Linked DNA regions of Homo sapiens. The main gene of each other region encodes a partner of the protein of the gene in region 2 in a complex. Each region holds a gene or a part of one and is shown on either strand. Other genes may lie near its edges.

Region 1 (3,748 bases), on a different chromosome or scaffold from region 2:
GCAGGCGCTCAGCAGCACCCAAGACTCACCACTGAGCAGTGAAGTCCACAAACTCGGGGGAGAAACGGTCGGCTGGGAGCTGGGGGGACGGCTCCTCCACCACCTGCTTCAGCTGCTGGAACGGGGTCCCCCAGGACTCGTAAGGGAACCGCAGGATGGCCATCTCAATCTGCAGCGGGGACAGGGGGTCAGAGGCCCCGGCCCCAGATACAACCACGCTCTGCACCCAGGAGCGAGGGTTGGGGGCTCCCACCCATCCTGGTACCAGAGCCAGGCGTCAAAGCTGCACAGCTGATCTCCCTACCACATCCCAGCAGAACAAAGGCGAGAAAGCCGGGGATGCCAGCTCTTAGCTCCTCCGACCCAGCCAGCAGGACCCAGCTCAGGAAGCAGATTCAGCCCACACCGGGACTGGTGGGACCATCATAGGGTTTTCAGAAAACCTGAATTCTGAAGATTTTACAAAACAATGCAGGTTCCAGCTGCTCTGGAAAAATCTGAGGAGCTGGCAACTTTGGGCCGTAGCCTCATGAGCCAGGTGGGCAGGTCCCAGGTGGTCACAGCCAATCCCCTTCCTAACATCTGACCATCTCAGACTTCAGCATCTGCTGTCATTAATTTGGGCTGTTTTCACAGAGGAGGCACATGGGAAATGCTACACACACACACACACACACACACACACACACACACACACACACAGCTGTCTCCAAGGCCGCGGACAGAGTGTGAGACCATGAGGCTGCTTCGCCTCTGCACCCGTGAGCCTGCAGCCTCATCTTCTGCAGGGCCCCAGCAGTTTCCCTCCTAGACAAGTGGCCTGTGTGGCCACATGTGCCCTGCTGGATCCAGATTTCCTGTGGGTGACATCGGGCCGGTGGGTCTCTGTCCTCGCTCCAAGCTCCCAGCCCTGTGGTTGGCAGGAAGTCATCATGGAAGGGACGGACTAGCTAGCTTACAACCAACTCTGGGCTCCAATCATGATGACTGGATGGAAAAAACAAGTTATGTCAGCCCTGGCCCCGGCCTGGAAGAACAGAGAATTCCGAGGCTCCAGCACAAGGGCCCTCACTGCCGGCCGTCATCACCATGATGAACGGAAGAGACCTCAGCACAAACACTTGGCACTGGCAACTGGAGCCCGGACAAGACCCTAAGGACTGTGCTGAGACTGTGCCTCCCATCAGGCTAGAGGCCCTTTCCAGCTCAGACAAACACACCCACACAGGCAGGGCCCACTGCGTGTGTGTGCATGTGTGCATGCGTGTTCACAGGACAAAACCGTACCGATTTGGGGGGCTTTTCTCTTAGAATTTTCACTGACTGCAATATGTAGAGCAAGTACCCCATACGAGCTACAGGAGAAGGACCAGCGGCCATGAGAGTTATAATTAGAAAAGCAGAAGTGTCCAAACCTTCAACCTCGTACTCCTTTATTTTTTCTAAAGAGCTCAAAAAATGAAAAACAACAAAAATAGCCTCCAGACACGAAGATGTGCCATATGGTGTTTTCTGCCAGGAAATACTAAGAAACAGCCTGAATGTCCAGCGCCAGGGGCCGGCCCCACCATGGGGGCGGAGACCCAGCCAGGACCGTAGTCGCACCCCTGTGACTCCCCAGCGACAACACTAACAGGCCAGCACCCAGTCAGCACTTGCTCCTGGCCAAGGGCCATCCCCGGCATGACCCCTGTCTGTTCTGGGTGATTCCCACTGGCATCCTGAGGCTTGTGCAGTGAGTGGGAAAAAGCCAACGCCAAGAGAGCTCTGGGGCCCTTGCAGGATGGGGGGAGGCCGAGGCCAGAGCCCCACCCAGGGGGACTCTCCCGACTCTGTTTCATCAGTCGCTCCCCCAGGATGGCTGAGAATTTGAAATGGAAGGAAAACAGCAGGAACAAGGGAAACAACCCACATCAGCAGACAGGGTGACTGAATGGTGGCAGATGGTTATGGAGTCTTTGGAAGGGATACATACAGGAGTCTATTATAATTTAGAGAAATTGGCCAGGTGCGGTGGCTCACACCTATAATCCAAGCACTTTGGGAGGCCGAGGCAGGCAGATCACTTGAGGTCGGGGGTTCGAGACCAGTCTGACCAACATGGAGAAACCCCATCTCTACTAAAAACACAAAATTAGCTGGATGTGGTGGTGCACACCTGTAATCCCAGCTACTTGGGAGATTGAGTGAGGCAGGAGAATCACTTGAACCTAGGAGGCAGAGGTTGTGGTGAGCCGAGATTGCACCACTGCACTGCAGCCTGGGCACCAAGAGCAAAACTACATCTAAAAAAAAAAACAACAAAAAAAACAAAAAACAAAAAAAACAGAGAGAGAGAGACAAATATGAACAACATGTAATGCTACAAAATTTTTTTTAAAAAGTTTTTTAAAAAGAAGCATTACGAGGCCAGGCGCAGTGGCTCACACCTGTAATCCCAGCACTTTGGAAGGCCAAGGTGGGTGGATCACGAGTTTGAGACCTGCCTAGCCAATATGGTGAAACCCCATCTCTACTAAAAATACAAAAATTAGCCAGGCATGGTGGCGCACGCCTGTAGTCCCAGCTACTCGGGAGCCTGAGGCAGGAGAATCACTTGAACCTGGGAGGCGGAGGTTGCAGTAAGCCGAGATCGCACCACCGCGCTCCAGCATGGGTGACAGAGCGAGGCTCTGTTTCAACAACAAAAAAAGAGAAGCATTACATATTGTTTGTATTTCTCTAAATTTTAATAAAACGTATTTTATTATATGTAATAAAAATATTATATATATAATATAATGCACAATGTTGGCACTGAAACGGGGTAAGAGGTGTCTCTAGGTAGAATAACTACAGTCATTTTCCCCTTACTGTGCCTCTATTTTTATGTTAGGTTTCCACTACGTTTGTAACTTGTGAAAGAAAAACCTAACCTGTGCCTAAAGTGACCACCTCCGCCTCCCGCTGTGTGCACCTGCTGATCCTCCATTAAGCCGGGAGCATTCCCTGCCCTTGAACCTGGGCTGGCCTGTGACTCGCTGACCAACACAATGAGGCAGAAGTGATGCTGTGCCAGTTCCAGGCCTAGCACTTCAGAGAACTTCCTTTTAGATGCCAGCCATCATGAAAGAACTCCAACTCTGCTGACACTGCCATGCTCTGAAGCCCAGGGAGCAGGCCAATGTGAGTAAGTTGCATGGAGAGGCCAGGCAGAGGAGGCCCATGTTTGTGAGGCCGTCTTGGGCCTTCCAGACCAGCCCAGCCCAGCCATGACCCCAGCCAATCCCAGGTACAGCAGAAGAGCCATCCAGCTGAGCCCAGCCACAGTGGTGGAAACATGAGAAATAAGAAACCGCTGTTGGTTTGGGTCACTAGGTTCTAGGGTGGTTTGCTATGCAATATTTGATAACTGAAATATACACTTAGCACACACTTGTCCAAGTTCCACCAGCCATATCAGAAGGCCACTAGCCATGGTGGCCCCAACAATCATGATGGATGGACAACTGGAAGGGAGACAGGGAGATGGGGAAGGGACATAGGGTGTGTGTATGTGTGAGGTAGTCATGAGCAGGGTCTCTAATATCCAACCAGTTCTGTGCAGTCTAAATACAGCAAGAACTTGTCCTTTGCATCAAACTTAGGACTTGGAAAACTGTTATTGCAGATACAGCACCTGCCTTCAGCCTGAATATTCCTCTCCACCTCAAAAAAAAAAAATTTTAATTGAAAAATTACATGTCACCAATTAAAGAAAATTGAAGGT
Region 2 (3,748 bases):
GGAATCTGCATTGCCACGAGTGCCTTTACACACCACAGTCTGAGCACCATGAGCTAGAACCAGGCCACCCTCACCTTTCTCTGAACACAGAGACAGACCCACAGGTTTCCCAGAGCCCTTCTGCACACCCTGGTAATCACGGGGACATCCCTAATCAAGGATGGATGATCCATTCAAGAATTCCAGAGATGGACTGGCCTATGAGGATCACACAGGCCAGTGATGCCTGGCCTCTTGGGGTAAAAACTGAGTCTACTACCCAGGAAAATGCACATTCTTATTTCTATCAGGGAAATTGCTCCAACAGACAGGTTTCCAAATTCCCACTCAAAGTATCATGATCCTCCCTCCTAGGGAAATAGAGTTTGGTGCTGGCTGTTTTCCATTTGCCTGGCCAGATCCACTCTCCCCCTTCTCTACCCGTCCCTGGCTCCTGGGAGGCTGATGCCTGGGGACTACTCCAGCAGACAGCCCACTCGGCCTCCCTGATGGGTCCAGCTGGTGGAAGGCGCTGGCCAGGAGCAAGAGTTGGGGTGAGGAGTTAGGGCCAAGCGGTATTCTTCCACTTTGCAGAAGCTCAGGCAGCCGTCTCCATACCTTCCCCCCAGCTAATTAGTCTCCCTCCCCTTCCCCCTTCAAGTCTACCCTCCCCCAGCTGTTACTAACCCCAGGCCCCTGCACCAACCCTCTCACTCTTCCTAACTCCTGCCCATGGCTTGTAAACAATCTGTTTTTCAAACTCTCCTCAAAACACCCATTTTAAGTGTGTCATCTGTTTCCTCCAAGACCATGATGGGTATAATCATATTTACATTCATTGCATATAATACATATATATATTCGCTATATATGTTATGTATTATGTTGTTATTATGCTTTAACCTAAAGACCATGGTCCCTATGTCAGGGTTAACAAAATTCACTACACAGTTTCTAGTGGGTATCCATGTGTTTGGTCCATGATGAAAAATAAATCTTGTTGCTTTGCCCCCAGAGAAGATGTATACCATCCTAATACTCTCAGGAAGTGGTTTGTCCCATGCTTAGGGTCAATTAAGGTCATCCAGGTGTAGCCCAAAGCCCCTGGAGGCTGGGAATCAATTTTAACTTCAATCTAGAACTTCTGCTTTCCTATAGGTTCTAAATAGAAGCAGGGCAATCCCCTTTCAAGCTGGAAGGATGTTGGGGAATCTGTCGCATGCTGATCCGCAGGCCTAGGCACACCCTCTGCCCTTGCCTGCCCCCAAGATGTGGAAAGAGGCCCCCGAGTTCAGGGGCACAGATTCTCCAAAGGGCAAAACCTCACATCTTTGGCTGGGGCTCTAAGCAATACGGGTAGTGCTGAAATCCTGTTTGGACACTGTGCTACCTCAGGAATCCAACAGTAGTTGTAACCCTGCAGCCACTTTCTATTTCTTGGGTCCTGAAATTCCCATCTGGTTGGGGTGTTAAAGTCTCTGATGGGGCACAAGTCACCTCTGATTTGGTGTTGTTCCTGATACGGACACATACTACACAAAACTTTCTGCAAGTGACCTCAAGGTTTTCAGGGAGCCTCTGAAGTGTATCCATAGACTGGTGGGAGGCAGAAAACCTGTAATCAGAATGATGCAATTTGTGAACCCCAGCTCTGCCATTTCCTGGACAAGTTACTTCACTTCTCTGAGCCTCAAGTCAAGGATAATGGAGATAATAACATTCCTGCCTACCCGCCAGGGTGGTTGTAGAGATTAGATGAGGTCATTCCGGAAAGCATAGCACCAGACCCAGCACATAGGCCAGTCAATAAAGTGTGGCTGTCATCATCACATATTGAAATTAAGGCCCAGAAGGGAAGGGATCTGGGCAGTGTTGCAAAGCAGGGTGGCAGAGGCGAAGCTGGGCCCAGACTTCTAGAGCCCAGCTCGGTGCTCCCACACTTAGCCTTGATGGTGCTCCCCCATACCTGAACAGCAATGCCCAGTAACACTCACTACAGAGCCTTGCAGACACCAAGGCAAGGCAGCAGCTGCTCCACGCCAATGTCACCCACAGAGTTGTAGTCCAGCTGCAGGGCCACGGGCCGCCGGAGGTGCTGCAGCACAAAGGCCAGGGCAGCACACTCAGTGGGGCCCACACTGCAAAATGTCAACTTGAGGTGCCCAACATTCAGGCCACGTGCAGCCTTCCGAGCCAGCCGCTCCTCCTGCATCTCGTACAGGCTCCGGATGAGCCAGATGAACCCGGGCATGGCATGCACGCTCTTGGCCTCACCCGGTGCAGCTGGCGGGATGGAGTGGAAGTGCTTGCGGAGGCTGCGGGCCAGACACCAGCGGGCACAGGCCTGGCGCCGGAGCAGGGCCTTCTCAGATGTCTGGCACTCAGCCAGCAGGCCCCAGTGCTCCCGGGACAACAGCCCTGCCAGGAAGGCTGCTGTGATCTGAAGGTTGTGCGGCTCGGCCTTCTGCAGCAAAGCTGCCACGCTGCTGTCCTTTCCCTCCGAGGCCTGGATGCACATCGTGGGCAGGAGCCTGGCCATTGGTGAGTTGCCTGGCCTGCCACAATTGAAGAGGTGTCTGAGCAAAGCTGGTGGCACATCAGCACTGAGTGCCAGGTAGAACGCGGCAAAGAAGCACTGGAAAGTGATGTGAAGGAATTCCAGGGGCGCCGTACTCCCTGGCACGACACCTTTGGCACGCACCAGGAAGCCAAGAGAAATGTCATCAGGGCTGACCTGTGCTGCCTGGAGCTGCTGGGCTGAGAACACGTAGCAGCACATGCCCAGGCCCCACAGAGCCAGTCTGCCCAGGTGCAGGAGGGTGGGGAGGCGGCCCCGAAGAAGACTGGGTCCCAGACCTTGGGAAGCTGAGTCTGGGGGGGTGGCATGCAGCAGAAAATGCTGCAGAATCAGCAGGTACATATCTGTAGTGGTCTTTGGGGACCCCCCCTCCTGCAGCAACAGTTCCTGGTGGCATTTGGACACCATCCATGAGAAGACAGGCAGGTGGCACAAACCGTGCAGGGCTGAGGTCTCTTGGAGCAGGCGGATGAGGCGGTCCGCCACCCCGGGCTCATGATGGCGCTTCCTCAGGTACAGCTCGATGCCCTGTTCAGAGAAGCCCTTGAGGTTGAACTCGGTGCGGATGTACTTCCTGAGGAACGCCGACACAGCGGCCGGACGGCTGGTCACCACCTTGCGGGCATTCTTCAGCAGGTTGCCCTGCAGAAGGTTGAAGAGCAGGGTCTGGACAGAGGTGGGGTCGGTCGGGGAGCAGTGGCGTTCACGATCCGTGAACCTGAACTTGAACTCGTCAAAGCCATCAAAGGTTAACAGGACACGGTCAGGGTGGTCAAGGAGTAACTGGAAGATGTCTTCTTGACCAACATCAGGCCAACAGCAGTGCTCAAAGAGTAGAGTCCGCACAGAGAGTGGTTTGGCCATGCACTGCAGCTGCCGGCAGCTGAATGGGAAGACAAAGAGAAATTCCTGGAAGTCTTGCCCTGCAGCCCACAGCAAGTGCAGCCGCTGCAGGAGCGTGCTCTTGCCACTGCCCGCCTCACCCACCACCAGCACAGTGTCCGCATCGTCATTGAGGTGGCCAGGGGTGCTGAAGAGCTCCTCCAGGCCCAGGGTGGCTGGGCTCTTCTGCGGGGGTCCAGCCATGCCCACATCTGCCCAGACCTCCAGGACATTCTCTGTGTATATGTCCTCCAGGCAGAGCGTCTCTGCTCCATCATAGGTACTGAGGAAGCGAGACTGAGCAGACAC
Region 3 (3,748 bases), on a different chromosome or scaffold from region 2:
CTTTACCAGGGAAAATAACCACTGTATTTAAATTGCGCTTCTTCCAAAGCAACTTCTTTTGCTCCATTGATTCATTTCTCTCCATAACCCTCCCCCACATTCTTAATACATATGTGTAAAGGGATTTTCAAAAATTGAAAAGAACAGCAAAAATAAACAATAAAGACAAAACAGGCTGCTTCTTACCTACAAAAGCCTAGGGGCAAGCATGGAGATAGGTCTTCTGTCTACAGCTGGTAACAGGTGGTGGTATAGAAGTGTGCATCAAACTGACCTTTAAAGACTTCAGGAGCCAAGATCGTGTCCGACTCCCGTTTCAGCTTCAGCCTCAACCCCCGTTAAGAAGTTTTATTCAGATAGTTTATTTCCACGGAGCAATAGCGGTTTCTCTTTGCTGCCTCGGAACATGGTTACCCACAGATGGAACAGGCTGCTGTGTGAGCAATCTGCTCAGTGCAGCTGCTTCACCAAGATAAAGCAGACACAAGGTCTGCCCTGTGACAGCAGCTCAGCAGACTGGGCTTGGGCGGAAATCCTGCATCCTATCCCCTGCACTGTGCAGGGTCTTGAATTCTCAGACTGCTGCCCAAAAGCAACAGGCAATGGAACTAGAGGTCCACTCCCCAAGCAGGAAAAGGAAGGAGTTCCCCGTCAACAACACCCCTAGCCCAAAAAAAACAAAAACAAACAAACAAAAAACCACCAATGACCTAATACCACCATTTTGGATGTTGGGAAGTCAGCTCAGAACAATACTTACAGCTGTTCATGAAACCACTCTGACTCTAAATTTGCTCAGAATACAGACTAGGATGATAGGGGAGGAAGGGAGTTTCAGGCTTGTAGATAAAACACAGCTTTTTGGCACTGTTTTCTATGGTACTAGAGAAAAGGATTAAGCCATGTGAATAAAAACATCTGCTAAATTCTTTCACCACTTTAGAGTACCTGTGATCTAGGCATTGTTTTCTAGGTTTGCAAAGTTGCAACCACTCCAGAATGAGACAGGAGTGTTTATAAGCTTAAGCAACCAAGCAGTAAGTCTACAATACAGGAAGCAAAATCTGTCCAACCCTGAGATGACGTGCCCCTCCTGATGGTGGTGACTATTAACTTGGCTACCTACCCAATGAGTGCAAGGCCTCAAAACAACAAAGATGCCTATATTTTTACCAGGACACCACAGTGACTCTTAAGGGAATCTGCTTCTCAGACTGTTAATTTTGTATTATGTTTTGCTTACCTGCTGCTGGCTCAGGCCCCTGGACAGGTAAAATGATCTTCTCTGGCTCCTCCCTTCCAGCAAAACATCCTGCAAGGCTCCCCGTGGCTTCCTCAGGAGTACTGCCCATTGGTAGGCTCTCCCCAGGTGGGAAAGTACTCACTTTTTCTGTAAAAGCACTCTCTAGTCCTTTAGTGAGAGGACCCAACTCAGGGCTGGACAGTGACATGTGACAGGCCTCCCCCTCAGTAAGCAGTGCTCCAGCGGCCTTGACTTGTTCGATGACAGCATCCACTATACGGCTGGCAGCCTCCTCTATCAAGTCTGCCCCCTTAGGCAGAGGTGCGTCCTGGGCAGAGACCATGCAAGGTAGAGAGGGAGTGCTCCTTTCCCTGCCTGAAGGCGGGGCTCGCATGACTTCCCTCACACCAGCTGGGGCCCCATCATCATGGGCTGAGAGCTCCATGTCTGTGGGGAGCTCCTTGGCAACAGGCTGCAGTAGGACAGGATGTGCTTCATCGTCTATTTGGGCTTCCTCAGCGTCACCCATGGTACAGCTGTGGTCTGCTCCCTCCAGCTTCCCTTTCTCCCAATCAAGAGGTATCATCTCTGGGGTTCCAACTCCCTGTGGGTCAGTCACAGCTTTGTCCTGTAGAGCCACTGGCAAACCTAGAACGGCATTCTTCTCTTGGCTCAACAAGACGTTTGGAATCAGGATGTCTTGGGTGTTGTGTGATATATTCTCTCTTCTGGGCTCAGCCATACCTTGTAGAGCATTAACCCCTGTAACATCCACCGTCACATCTCCACTCACCTCACAGGCACTAGTTTTTCCCTGGGATTGAGTGTTCTTCACTCCAACATCCAGAGGAGAAGGCTGACTGCAGTTAAGAGCATCGGACCCATCAGACCCATCTGGCAACAGACATGGCAACAGAGCGGAGCTGTTGTGCTCTGCCCCCAAGGCTTCCTGCCTTGACTCTGTGGCCAGACTTGCTCCTGGTGGCACCAGGCTCTGGGCAGCCCCACCTTGAGTCAGCAGTGAGACTTGTGGGGCCACTTCCTTGTTATGTTCAGTTTCTGCCTTAAGAAAGGCAGAGGATGCACCCGGTGAATTACTTAGCTGAAGTGCTTTGTCCTTGGCACAGTCAGCTGAGATTGATTTTTCATGAAATTGTTGAGTATCTTGTCCAGGAGGTGGTGTTCTCTGCTCTTCCTGCAAAGTTCCTGAAGAGAGAGCATTTTCCTTAATAGAGGAACAGGTCACCGCTTTATCCTTATCTTGTTCCTGAGCTGCAGAGCTTTCTGAAACCACCAGAAGTTTTCCTTCTTCAGTCAAAACTGAATCTAAAGCCAAAGTGGCCTTACCCACACTTTGCAGGGAAGAGTCAGTGTTCCCCTTGATATTCAGAGCTTCTGGGATTGCTGGAGGGGCGGGACCCTCATGCTCTCCACCAAGTCCTGTGAGACTGGTATTCCCCATCCCGTGCTGAAGCTCTGCAGCAGTGGAGGATGTGGACAGGCCTACTGCCCTGTCTTCTAGTGGCCGCGTATCAGGCTCATTCGAATTTCCATCTGGGCCATCTCTATAATCTGTAGCTGTATGTAGTTCAGGAGTTGCTGTTCCCTTTTCTTTCTGGGAGGGGACAAAAGAAAGTGCGTCATCCTTGGTTACTGATTCACTGCCTGGACTGTTTGCCAGAGAGAAAGTACTGTCTGATATTACTGCCTGGTCTGGCACCAGTTCTTTCTCCATTTTAGGGACAACTGGATGTGGATGTGAAACCACCTCAAGCATATTTGTTAAAGGTTTATCTAGTTTCACATCTTTTCGTTGGCCTTTGTTATCCACCACTTTGAAAGGACAAAAATCCGCACGTTCCTGGGTATCCCTTACAGGGTCAGAGGTGACTGTATGAGCCTGTGGGTCTTCACAGTGGGAGGCATCGGGTGGATCTTGTGAGCTGGGTTGCCTTGCTGTGGTGCTTTCGGACTCGCTAACTATGTTATCACACAGTTTTGCAACCAAATCGCCACTAGAAGTCACTGTGTTCTGTTGACATGCAGAGTCTGCACAAAGTTTATCGTCTCCAGTTGTAGAACAAATGGGTGAGGATTTGCCCTTTTGGCTTTGAGCATGAGATGAATTTGTTTCTGAGTTCTGGTGTGGCATTACATCTTCTTCCAGCCCAAGAAGGGCTAAATCTGAGGGTGACATTGCCTCACCTATGCCTGCTGCTAAGAGAGTATAAGGTTCTAATCCATCTGAAATCTTGTCTTTTGCAGCAGCTGGAATCACCACAGAATTCTGATCTACTGGAGCATCAGCACTCTCCTCACGACTTCGTGAAGTTTCCGTTTCTGCTGTTTTTTCAGTGGAGGTTTCTTCATTACTAAATGCAAGTGAAGACTCAGCAGGTTTGTTACCATCCAGGGAACTGGCAGCAGGGGCACAGTTTGGAACACTGATTTTATCCACAGGCTTACTTGTGACGTGCACGTCAGAGGCTCCAGCTGTGCCAATAT

The links.
Region 1: NOD2 (region 2) and MAP2K3 share a complex: the UniProt entries of both Homo sapiens proteins name them as parts of the signaling complex.
Region 3: NOD2 (region 2) and AKAP13 share a complex: the UniProt entries of both Homo sapiens proteins name them as parts of the signaling complex.

Annotation. Positions count from the first base shown.
Region 1 is NC_000017.11:21,308,563-21,312,310, reverse strand, and holds part of MAP2K3 (dual specificity mitogen-activated protein kinase kinase 3), read right to left. Parts: intron 170-3,748; coding exon 30-169; intron 1-29. UniProt on the Homo sapiens protein: Dual specificity kinase. Is activated by cytokines and environmental stress in vivo. Catalyzes the concomitant phosphorylation of a threonine and a tyrosine residue in the MAP kinase p38.
Region 2 is NC_000016.10:50,710,599-50,714,346, reverse strand, and holds part of NOD2 (nucleotide-binding oligomerization domain-containing protein 2), read right to left. Parts: coding exon 1,974-3,748; coding exon of another isoform or gene 1,973-1,973; exon of another isoform or gene 1,710-1,972; intron 1,595-1,709; coding exon of another isoform or gene 1,594-1,594; exon of another isoform or gene 758-1,593; intron 1-757. UniProt on the Homo sapiens protein: Pattern recognition receptor (PRR) that detects bacterial peptidoglycan fragments and other danger signals and plays an important role in gastrointestinal immunity.
Region 3 is NC_000015.10:85,579,603-85,583,350, reverse strand, and holds part of AKAP13 (A-kinase anchor protein 13), read right to left. Parts: coding exon 1,244-3,748; intron 1-1,243. UniProt on the Homo sapiens protein: Scaffold protein that plays an important role in assembling signaling complexes downstream of several types of G protein-coupled receptors.